Linked DNA regions of Homo sapiens: region 1 is linked to region 2. Evidence: fine-mapped expression QTL. A gene starts in region 2. The other region holds a variant in brackets. All regions are shown on one strand. Distances are between the middles of the regions. Region 1 overlaps MDGA1 (MAM domain containing glycosylphosphatidylinositol anchor 1). Region 2 holds the start of MDGA1 (MAM domain containing glycosylphosphatidylinositol anchor 1).

Region 1 (5,475 bases), 62 kb before region 2:
GTGGGAGGGTGGCCACCTCTGTGTGGCACCCAGGCCTGTCATGGGGCAGAAGGGTCTGCAGCCTGGGATGAGAGGCCAGAATTTGGAGCCGAGGGCAGGATCCCAGCAACATCTATAACATCCCCACCGGCACCCTGGACACAGGACTGTTAGCCAAACTCCCTGCAGTTGTTTGGCAGGAGACCTCAGGGGCAGTGACAAGCGGTGTGACACCCCCAGGGCTGTAGTACTTGGCTCTCCCAAGACTGGCTCTACTCAAACTAGCTGTGTGACCTTGGGCCACTCCCCTTCCCCACTCTGGGCTTCAGCTTCTTCATCTGCACGAGGGGATCAAACTTTTGAGGTCCATCCTCACTCTGACAGCCTGAGCCAGGGGCTTTCCCAGAGCACAGGGAAAAGGAGAATGAATGAGAAAGAGGTGTCAGGCCCATCTCTGAGAGGTAGGGGTGGAAGGAGCATTCCAGGAGGAGGGGGCTTGGTCTTCAGGCTTCACTCAGCACCCTAGGAGCCTGTCTGTGCTCCCAAGGGCAGGATAGCCCAGCTGAGACTTCCATAAGCTGCTATACAGCACCTGGCCCCCGGAGTCCTTTTCACCAACCTGAAGGGGACAAGGGATGGAAGGGCCCCAGCACCCTGAGGGCTGACCCTGAACACCCCGTTTTAAGGCCACAAAATGCCTCAGTCACCCTGACCCAGAGGGCGAGGCTGCCACTGGGGAGATGTGCTGGATCCAGCCAGCCTGGTCTCCCCTGGCGGGGGTCACTCATGGGCCACCCATCAACACACAGACACTGACACACCATGGCGCACAAAGACACAGCATGAGCAACACTGATACAGAGATGCTGGCTCACAGGCACACACAGACACAGACACTGACAAGTCACCAGGTGATACACAAAGACACTCATTCCTGCTGAGGAACACACAAACACACAGAGACCAGCACATGCCTAGACATTTACAGTGCCCACTGGCATACACTGACACCCACATCCCCCACCCACCTGCTGGCACACACAGACATCCACATCAGCCTCACCCATTCACACGTGGGGACCTCAGCATTTCAGCAGACACATTTTGTCAATCCCAGGTCAAGCCATCCTCAAGGCAGGGCTGTCTGCACCCACTGAGACCTCCAGCAGCATCCCCCCATCCCCCCTCCACCTTGTGCCCTTCGTCCATAAAGACCAGGAACCTGGGGGCCACATGTATGCAGTTCAGCTCAGCCAACATGTACTGAGCACCTTTACTGTCCACTCTATGGATCCTGAGGGGAACAAGGGAGACAAGTCTCCCCTGTCGGAGCAGCCAGGGTTGCGGGGCAAATGGATTGGAAGGTCCTCTGAGGGAAGCAGGCACAGGGTGCCTTGGGAACCCCAAAGAGGGAGCACTTGGGGCTATTCATCTCTGGTGCTCCAATGCCTACCCCAGCGAGGGCACAGAGGAAGCACCCAGGTGGTGCCAGGCCAGTGGTTCCTGCTGTCAGGAGAACCCAAGGAGCTTTTCAACATTTCTTGATGTCCGACTGCGCTCCAGTCCAATTAACTCAGAACCTCTGAGGTGGGAACCAAGCAGCAATACTTTTTAAAGGACTCTGGTGGTTCTATTCTGCAGGCAAGGCCAGGAACCACTGATTACAGAATCCATTCCACCGGGCAATGGAGTGGTTTCCACACCAGGCTCACTTGTGCTGGGCACGAGCGGGAGGTGGCGAAGGTGGAGGGGGGACTTGGAAGGCTCAGAGGAGGAGCTCACAGTCTAGTTGGGGCAATGGACTCTGCACAGATGGGACAGTTAAGGAACAATACCCGACAGACGCGATGGAAGTGTATGCTGAGAACCTGGAGCGACTCATTTCAGACAGAGGCCTTGACTGGGTCAGGAAGGCAGCCGTGCTGATTGGGCATCAGAAGGCCCCGCTGCATCCTGGCCCGGCCACCCACCAGCTGTTGGTGATAATGATCACACAGGCCTGGCAGGGGGAGATGGGCAGCCTTTGCCTCGGTTCCCCGCCTGCCTCCTGGCACTGCAGTGCTGCCCGAGTTCCAGGCCTCTTCTCTGCAGCTGTCCCCACCAAATGCTCCAGAAGGAGCCCTGTGATGCTCCTCACCAAAGGTGCTTGCATTCAATAGGGTCATCTGTAAGCTCTCCGTCATCCATAGGGGATGAAAGGTGGAATTTCAGGCCATCGCAGGCAGCTTGAGACTACAGAACAGGGCTGGACAGAGTCTATTCAGCCAGCACCCTACAAGCGAACACATCACTCAGGAAGGTGGACACACACGCTGACGTACACGGACATTCATAGAAACGAATGGGTCTCAATCCAGTCTCACAGGCAGATATGTGAGATTGCACACACAGACCTGTGTTTGCACACACTCCTGCCCAACAATGTACCCACGGTGGTACCTAGACACAGACGGGCACAAACACATACACACATATGCACGCATGCCTAAAGAGTCATTCTAGAAGGGGCTGGGCCTTCTCTCTCCCATGGATGGCTAGGTGGGGGCTCAGGTGATGTCAAGGAGGAAAGATCTAGATCCCATCATGTCAATCTCAGGTGCCTAACCCAGGACCCAAGGACAGGGATCCCTTTCACAGCTCCCAGAGAGTGAGGGGACTGGCACCTGCTCCCTCCACCAATCCCAGCTCTATAAGCCCCTCCTCCTTCACTGCCCCTGGGTGGAGAAGGGAACTTTCAACTAGACAGTGCTTTTTGGCATTTTGCCCTGTACACACCCTCCTATCCAGGGCACCCTTTCATGCCAAGTAGATAAGAAATGAAGGCCCCTCTCCACTTCCAAATTCATTGTCTGATATGGGGGCACCAAATCACAGAAGCGGGACGTCTCTTCTGCCTTTCTCCAAGTCAAGCCTCACCCCAGAAAATGGGCTGGCCACCGCTCCCCCAGCTCCTCTGAGACCCAGCTGGGGGCTGAGGCTAGGAGAGAACCGTGTTCTCAGGAGTCCCACTGCTTGTAGGGTGGAGTGGGGAAGTTATCAGTCTTCAGACTGCCCAGGCCCAAGACCCTGTGCTGGGTCCCTTCAAAGGGTGCACACTGAGGAGGGAAATATGGTGTCCCAGAAATAGGTCAAGGAATCTGGGGTGACCTATGGTCTCCACCATCCAGTGCTCACTCTGGACAGAATCGTGTGCAGCAGGTGCCCTACCTTCCTTGTCTCCTGGACGTGGGACAGTCACAGAGCTCGCAAAGTCCCACCTGTTCGTCCTCTGATCCCTGCCTCTCCCATCTCAGGAGTCCCAGAGTCTGACCAAGG[G/A]AGGGGCTCCATGTCTGCCCCACTTCTGGCTCCCTTCTGGCAAAGCCACCAGGCTGGAGTTCGGCCTTGACTTAGGGGACAGGGTAAAGTCAGAAGCACACCACGAGTGCAGCAAGGACAAGGCCTATGTTGCGCCGAGGTCCCTGGGTTGGCGGATGCCATTCAGGCAAGTCCCCTGTCTTTGCAGTAAAGAAGGTGCTGGCAGGTCAGATAGAAACTTGTGCTTTAATATATCTCTGTGTGTGTGAGCATGAGTGTGTGCGTGTGTGCAAGTGGAACAGCTGTCTCCAGGGCCTCAGTGCCTGGCCTCTGTCCTTGTTCTCTGCTCATCCTTGCAGCCAATGCAGGCCCCCTCCCTGGCGGGCCGGCCCTGCCCCTGGGCACCCCAGCTGGCGGGGGTCAGTCTTTGGTACAATGTGGACACTTTGGTGTGCCGGGGGCAAGGTTGGGGGGGTGGCCACACAGCTCTCATCATCTCTGCAACGCCAAGAGGAAGATGGCCATGGGCCCCCACAGCTGTGGGCTGGACTGGCAGGGGGCTCCACTGCCCGGCATCACCACCACTGCAACAGGGGAGAAAGAGGAGACAGGCCAGGGCTCTGGTCAGCTCTGGCAGGGGCAGGAAGTGGCAGGCAGGTCGGCACTGTTACTCTGCCCACCTCTTTGGAGGGCCTGAGGGTGGGCACTGGCCTCAGTGCACACAGACAAACTCACCGCACAGACATGAGGTGGCGTGGGGTGGGGTGGGGGTTAGCTCAGCCTGCCAGGGTTCACATTCACTAAGACTTGGAACAATTTACTTGACCTCAGTGGGCCTCAGTTTCCTCATCTGTAAAATGGGTCCAATGGTGTGTACTACCCCAAAGGACTGTTGTGAGGATTAACTGTTGTGAGGTAAGTGAAACATGCATATACAAGTTTGTGTGCCTTGCCTGGTACAGAGTAATTGCTCAGTAAGTAGGAGCTGTTAGTATTGGAAACCTCTGGCCCTGGAAGGCACACGTTCACCTCTGGAGCCAGAGGTACGCACAGATGTATTCAGACACAGGCACAGGAGGCGCTCTGATACCGTGAACAGGTCAGTATGCTCATCACGAGGGTGGGGGCCAGGCTTCTCATTGTTTACACAAGTACACAGCCTGAGTGAGTGTGGGGCACACCTTCACACAGTCAGAGCCACATGATTCCCATCACTCAGACATTCTGAACCCCTATTCAGACCCAAACACCCTCCCTCAACAGACAGGAACCCCCGCCACGCACAGCTCCCTCCAGATTCAGCTCCCCCACCTCCTTCCCGTCTTGCACCTTTATTGGGATCCGTCTGCTTCCGGGGACACTCCCCCTTCTTCAGTGTGACGTCATCTATGGCAATATCCCCCAGGTAGCCCGGGCCTCGAACCCCCTCAAAAATAATCTGGGGTGGGGTCAGAAAGCAAGGAGCAAGGGTTGAGGAGGTTCTGCTGGGTACCAGAGTGCTCCCTCGACCCCACCTTTCCCCTTAATCTACCTGGAAGTTCCCCCTAACCTGACTCTTTCCATCCTTAGCCCCCAGGAAGAAGGACAAGGTTTTCCTAAGTGTTTCCTGGCCACAGCAACCACCGAAGCCGGGGAGGGTCCTCTGGGCCCTACGGACTCACCTGGAAGGGCCCACTGGGGCTGATGGGCACATGGGCCTGCTGCCACACATTGCCCTTATTGCCACTGAGAGACCAGGCGTGCGTGTCCAGAGCCCCTTTGTTCCGGGACCGCACCAGGAGGTTGAGGGAGCCTGCGGTGGGTGTGAAGACAGTGGGCAGTGAGATCTGGCCAGGGCACCCTCACCTTTCCACATTTACCAAGCCCTCTTCTCCCACCATAGCCTGCAGCCCTGTCCCTGTTGACAGGACCTCCTCCCCATGCCCAGCTGGGTGCAATGTCCCATTCCTGCAGGGACACCCTCAGTGTGGGAAAGAGAAGACTTCAGCAGGATTTCATTTCATCAGGATGACTTGCAAATTTTCTTTCATTTCTTTCCTGCCCTGCTAATCAGCTAATCTCCCCAACCCCAAACACACACATGCACACACACCCTACCCTTCCCCTCTAGGCAAGGGAGCTGTCCCAGGGCAGTGGGACCTCTGTCTGGGCACGCAGCAGGGTTTCCAAAGAAAACAGTGTGTCCCTGTTGGCAGTACATGA
Region 2 (5,245 bases):
GACGCAGGAGCAAGGCTGCGTGGCAGGAGGCAGAGTTTGGACACGTATCCCGGTGGGTGCGTGCCGTGTTTGCGTTTTCTGGGGATGGTGGCTGAATGTATCTGTGTGTGCGCGCAGGAAGGAAGGTGGGGTTGGGGTTTGTAGCCAAGAACCGGGGACAGGAAGAACTGGTTCAGGGAAGGTCCGAAAAGGGATGCCGGGGTCGAAGGCGCCAGGGCCAGGGGATGCCGGCATCCTGATCAGGGTGTCAAGCCCTGAGTAGAAGAAGCGAAGCCGCAGCAACAGCGGGGAAGGCGAGCCCGCCGCCCGGCCTTGGTGCTGACAGCCGGCTCGCCCGCAAGCCGCGCGGCAACTCCGGCTCATGCATCGCTTGGCTTCCACTCCGGAGGCCGAGCCAGGACGAGGTTTCGGTGCAAGTCGCTGCACCAGTCCTAGACTGGGTCTGTCCGGGTCTCCCGAGCCGACCGGGTGCTCTCAAGGGTTCCTAATCATTCCCACCTCTAGCAGGGTGTGGGAAAGTGGGTGCCTCCTCCTGACATCCCGGCTTCCCACCAGACCCTACGACCGGCCCCTGTGTTCCGAAGCAGCTAGCTCGGTCTCCACGCGCCCTGGAGAGGGCGGGGACGCGGGCATCCACTCCAGAGTCCGAGTCGAGGTCTCCACCAAACCCCGGCAGCGCGCACTTTGCGCCTCTTGCAAAGTTTCCGCGCGAGGTTAAGCCAAGGTGGAGCGGGACGCGGGCTCTTACCGTAGACTCCTTGTCCCCGGCAGTGGAAGGGGATCAGCGCCAGAAGTAGAAGGCAGGTCACCTCCATCTTCACGGCCGGTGCTTCATCCCCGCGAGGCGGCGCAGCCCGAGAGGCGGCGGGGGGCGCATTCGCCGGGGCCCCGCGACGCCCCTATGTCCCCCCCTTTCCCTGAGAGGTGAGAGAGAGAGCGGCGACGAAGACCAGGAGACTGAAGAGGCGGAGGTGGCGGCGACCCGTGTTTCTCCTCCGGCGGGGCCGCTGCCCGCGTGGGGACGCAGGGGGCGCTGGCCCAGCCCCGGGTGCCTCGGCGCGCCCGGCACAGCAGCCAGCGCCCCGACCCGAGGAGCCCGGCCGCCGAGCCGCCCCGGGTACCCAGGGCCGTCCGCGCGGGATGCTAGGCGCCGGGGACCTCTCGGCGGCGGAGGCGGCGCTTCGATCCAACAGGCCACGGACGACTGACAAACTTGTCGTTTCCCCGCACTGGGGCCGCCCCTCAGCGGAGCGGAGTCGGGGAGGCCGGGGCTCCGCTCGAGTTAATCAATCTGCTGTTTCCAGTCCTGCGGCCGCTGCCGTGGGCTCAGCGGCCCGACTCCAGGGGGCCGGGCTGAAAGCACTCGCGGCGGCGAAGCAGCCCCGGGCCCGGCCCTCCTGATCCGGGGAGCAGCGCGGGCTGGGTTCGGCCGAGGGACGAGCGCCGCGGGTCCCCGGGTCCGTGAAGTTAGCCGAGCCGCCGATAAACCCGGGGGAAGAATAGCAGCCCGGCGCCCCGCGGGAATCTGGAGAGCAATTCCAGGCAAGAAGGGCCCCAGAAAACGGGGAAAGGAGGAAAGTTTGAGTCTTTTGAAAAATATTCGCGCTCTCGCCCAGGCCGGGGCTGCGGCGCGGGCGCCGCTCGCCGCCTCCGCTCGCCGCGCTCCTCTCCCGCCGTCTGGCCGCGGCCGTAGCCCTCCCGGGCTCCGAGCTCTCGGGAGAGCGGGGCTACGCCGCGCCCCAAGTTGGTCGTCCCCGCCCCCGCCCGGCGGCCTTGGCCTGCGGGGGCCCAGAGCGGGCGGGGCCGGGCCGGGCTCCGGGGCGCGGCGGCCGCTCGGCTCCGGGCCGCGGGAGCGCTCCGCTCGCTCAGCAACTTGGGCTTTGCTGTGCTGCTTTTTCGCCCCTCCGAGCTTTTCATTCCGCGCTCCTCCCGCCTCCCTCCCTCTCTTCCTCCTCCCTCCTCCTCGCGTCTCCTCGTTCGGTCTCTCGCTCTCCCACCCGTTGTCGCTCGCTCTCCTGTTTGATTCCCCTCCAGTTAAAAAAAGGAGCCAATTAAAGGCAGCCCAGCTCGCCTGGCCCAGCCTCTGTCCAATTTCCTCGCCTCCCCCAGGACCAATTAGAGAAAACAAAACAGGGCTGGGGGAAGCTGACTGCCTGCCTTTCTCTTTCTCTTTCTCTTTCTCTTTCTCTCTCTCTCTCTCTCTCTCTCTCTCTCTCTCTCTCTCTCTCTCTCTCTTTCTCTCTCTCTCCTCTCTCTCTCTTCTCTCTCTCCTCTCTCTCTCCCTCTCGCTCTCTCTCCCTTCCTCTCCTCTCCTCTCTTTCCCTTTCTCCTCTCCCTCTCTCTCTCTTCCTCTCTCCGCCCCCTAACATTCCCCCCCAACCCCGCCCAGCAGGAAAATGTCAGAAAGCAGAAATGGATCCATCTATCCCGAGGACAGTGGCGGAGGGACCTGGGTTTCGGCGGGGGCTCTGCAGCCGCGCGCTCGCACACTCGCTGTTCTCCAGCCTTGCACACCCAGACTAGCTGGCCGAGCCGGGTGCACCGTTGCCAGCAGCCCGCGGGGCAAACACGGCCGCTCGCTTCGGAGACCCATGCCCGCAGGGCACTGCACACTTCGTAAATGTTTTGCACTTTGGGGAGGCGGGACTGAAGCGGGGGTCCTAGGGAAAGGCCGGGCGCCTGCGGTTCCTGGGGTCCTGCAGCCGCGCGAGACGGGCCGCGGCTGTGGGTCTGCAAGGCTGTCTGCCCGGCTCGAGAGGCCCCCGCCCCTTTCCAGGCGTCTGGTGCTGGGGCCGGGCCGGAGCAGCTGGCGGAGAGGTCGCGCTGAGAGCTCCTGCCCTTGCCGCGGCCCACAGGTTGCCAACAGGTTTGCTCGCACGACCCCTCCGCCAGAGCTTCCCTAAGTCACCCCACATTTTCCTCGGCTAGCCACTCTTCCCATCTTGCCTCCCCTCGGGACCTCAGGCGCCCCCAAGCGCCCCGGGGGCACACCTCCTTCCGGCTGCCGAACCCGAGCCCCGCTCCAGCGGCGGGAGTCCGGCACTCGGGTCTCAGCCGCCTCGAAGGGGCCCTCGCGGAGCAGGAGTGCGGAGAACGCTCCTCCCAAACGCCCGCGGGGAGGGGCGTAGGCTGGCAAGCGAGGCTGGTGGCCTCCCCCGCGCCTCCGATCCCGCCCCGCGCCCAACCCGGGTCCTGCTAATCTCACCTGCTCCACCTGTCGCCGTTATTTATCTCAGCGTGTGCGCAAGAATTGTTTTAGGTCGGCCCGTGGGAGCGCAGACAATCGCAGCAGCTAACAAGCGGGGAGACTACGAACCCCCCCTCCCTTCGCCCCCTGGAACTGCTCAATATCTTGATGGTGGTTCCACGGCTCTATGCATTTGTCAAAACTCAAAGATCTCCACACTCCAAAAAGGTTAGTCTGCATATAAATTGAAACATAAATTTTTTTAAAATAATAATAATGAACCGTCCCTTCCCCAGGCCCATTTCCTGCTGGGTCTCTCCTCCCTTGACTCTCCAGGGCTTAAGCCCCACCGGAGCGCGCGCTCCTGACTGCTGGAAGAGGAGCGGGAGGTGTCGGGAAGTGCCTGGTGGCATGGGGGGGTTCCACCTTCCTTTCTCAGCCCCCTTTCTGTCCATCTCAGGAAGCCCGAGAACATCCGAAGATTCCTATTCTCTAGCCCACCTCCACTCGTTTGCGCCTCCCTTGTGCCCTCTTCCGTCTTTTCTCTCCTTTCTACCCCGTGGGTCCAAGGCTGATAGGAAGTCCAGACTCAGTGCGGTGCTCCCAGCAGATGCCAGCTGCAGACATGTTCAGTGAATTCACGAATGATGCCCATCATGGCCAGATATCACAGACCTGGGATACCCTCAGGGTAGCCATCCTTTCACTCCCCAGCCCCGGACTGTTACCTCAAAGGCAAAAAATTCATTTTCTGTCCCACAGAGATACACAGCCACCATGCCTCTTCCCGCCTCCCCCATCCAGTCAGAAAAGGAAGTGGTGCCAATTGAGGGAGTGATGAGGGATAGCTTCTTCTATTGTCATCCTCTTCCCATTATTAGAGGGTTCCTGGAAGTCTCTACCCCTTCCAGGAAGCTCTCAGGGAGTGATCACAGCGACTGTGGCTCTTCCTGGCTTTGCCCATTCTGAGCTGAATGTGTACTTCTCCATGTCGTGCGAAACTGCGCTCTGATTTTCCAATTAGCTGTTCCAACACCAAACAGCAGTCAATTGCTCCTCTTTGGCTTTGGGGTGAGTTACTGGGGACAGAGAACTGCACTGACTCAGCTGACATTCTCTTGACTTTGCCCTCTCTAAACTCACACACTAGCCTGGAGGAGAAAGAAGGTTCATGATGGCGGGGTGGGGGGAACAGAGGACCAAGTTAGCCAGGCTGGGATTGAACATTTGCTGTAGCTAATCCACTTGTGAATACTCTGCAGCTAATTGTATGCAGTGTAAATACCTTGACAGCCTGTTTGTGTGTGTCTGTAAATTCAGCTGTCTCCTCCCCCAAGTGTGCCCTGCCTGCTGCCTCAACACAGCCCAGTGTCTGACAATGGGAGGCAACCTCAGAGAAGGGAAAGAGCCCTAGACATCAGTCCTGCGTCCCAGTCCTAACCTCTCTAGGCCTCAGTTTCCCCAGATGTAAACTAGGTAAGATCCCTGTCTTCCTAGAGAGAAGTGGAGTAATAAGAATAACAGCTGACACCACATGCCAGGCACTGTATTAACTATTTAATCTTCATAACCATTATGTAAGACAGGGCTGTTATTCTCATGGAATGACATAGGAAGATGTAGTGACTCACTCAGCTGCTAAGGGGCCAAACTGAGCTTTGACCTCAGTAGCTTGGCTCGGCGACCTTGCCCTCTCCCACTGTTCTATACTGAAGAGGGGCAAGGGCCTAGGTATCAAATAATGTTTCCACAAGAACTGTTTCCTGTTCCCTTTACAGACACAGAGAACAATACTCTGGCCCCCAAATTGCACCAAGGGCAGGGGGGACATGAGAGCTAGACTGCTAGACCTGACATGGGCCATAGGGCACAGGATGAGCCTGAGGTCAGGCTATCTGGAGGCTTGGTGGTCAGCACCCAGCTGCCAAGTCTTCGGTTCCACTCAAGATCATTCTAGGTCACTTCCCACTAGAAAAAAAAATATATATATATATATGTGTGTGTGTATATATATATATATATATATATATATATATATATATATTTGCCTCAAAGAAA

Evidence for each region. PIP is the estimated chance that this variant, and not a neighbour inherited with it, causes the effect.
Region 1: its variant is fine-mapped to the expression of MDGA1 in nasal epithelium (TOPMed, PIP 0.95).

Annotation. Positions count from the first base shown.
Region 1 is chr6:37,633,603-37,639,077 of GRCh38, forward strand. It overlaps MDGA1 (MAM domain containing glycosylphosphatidylinositol anchor 1), which reads right to left. Exons shown (of 17, transcript NM_153487.4): 15 at 4,935-5,065; 16 at 4,603-4,711; 17 at 1-3,857. The coding sequence ends at 3,766. Among named protein-coding and RNA genes, the nearest start is that of MDGA1, 62 kb to the right of the region's middle. The variant G/A (reference allele first, on the strand shown) is at 3,295.
Region 2 is chr6:37,695,997-37,701,241 of GRCh38, forward strand. It overlaps MDGA1 (MAM domain containing glycosylphosphatidylinositol anchor 1), which reads right to left and starts at 1,887. Exons shown (of 17, transcript NM_153487.4): 1 at 749-1,887. The coding sequence starts at 815. RefSeq lists enhancers at 1-510, 511-1,240 and silencers at 783-942, 973-1,262, 1,443-1,502, 1,563-1,692, 1,753-1,822 and 3 more.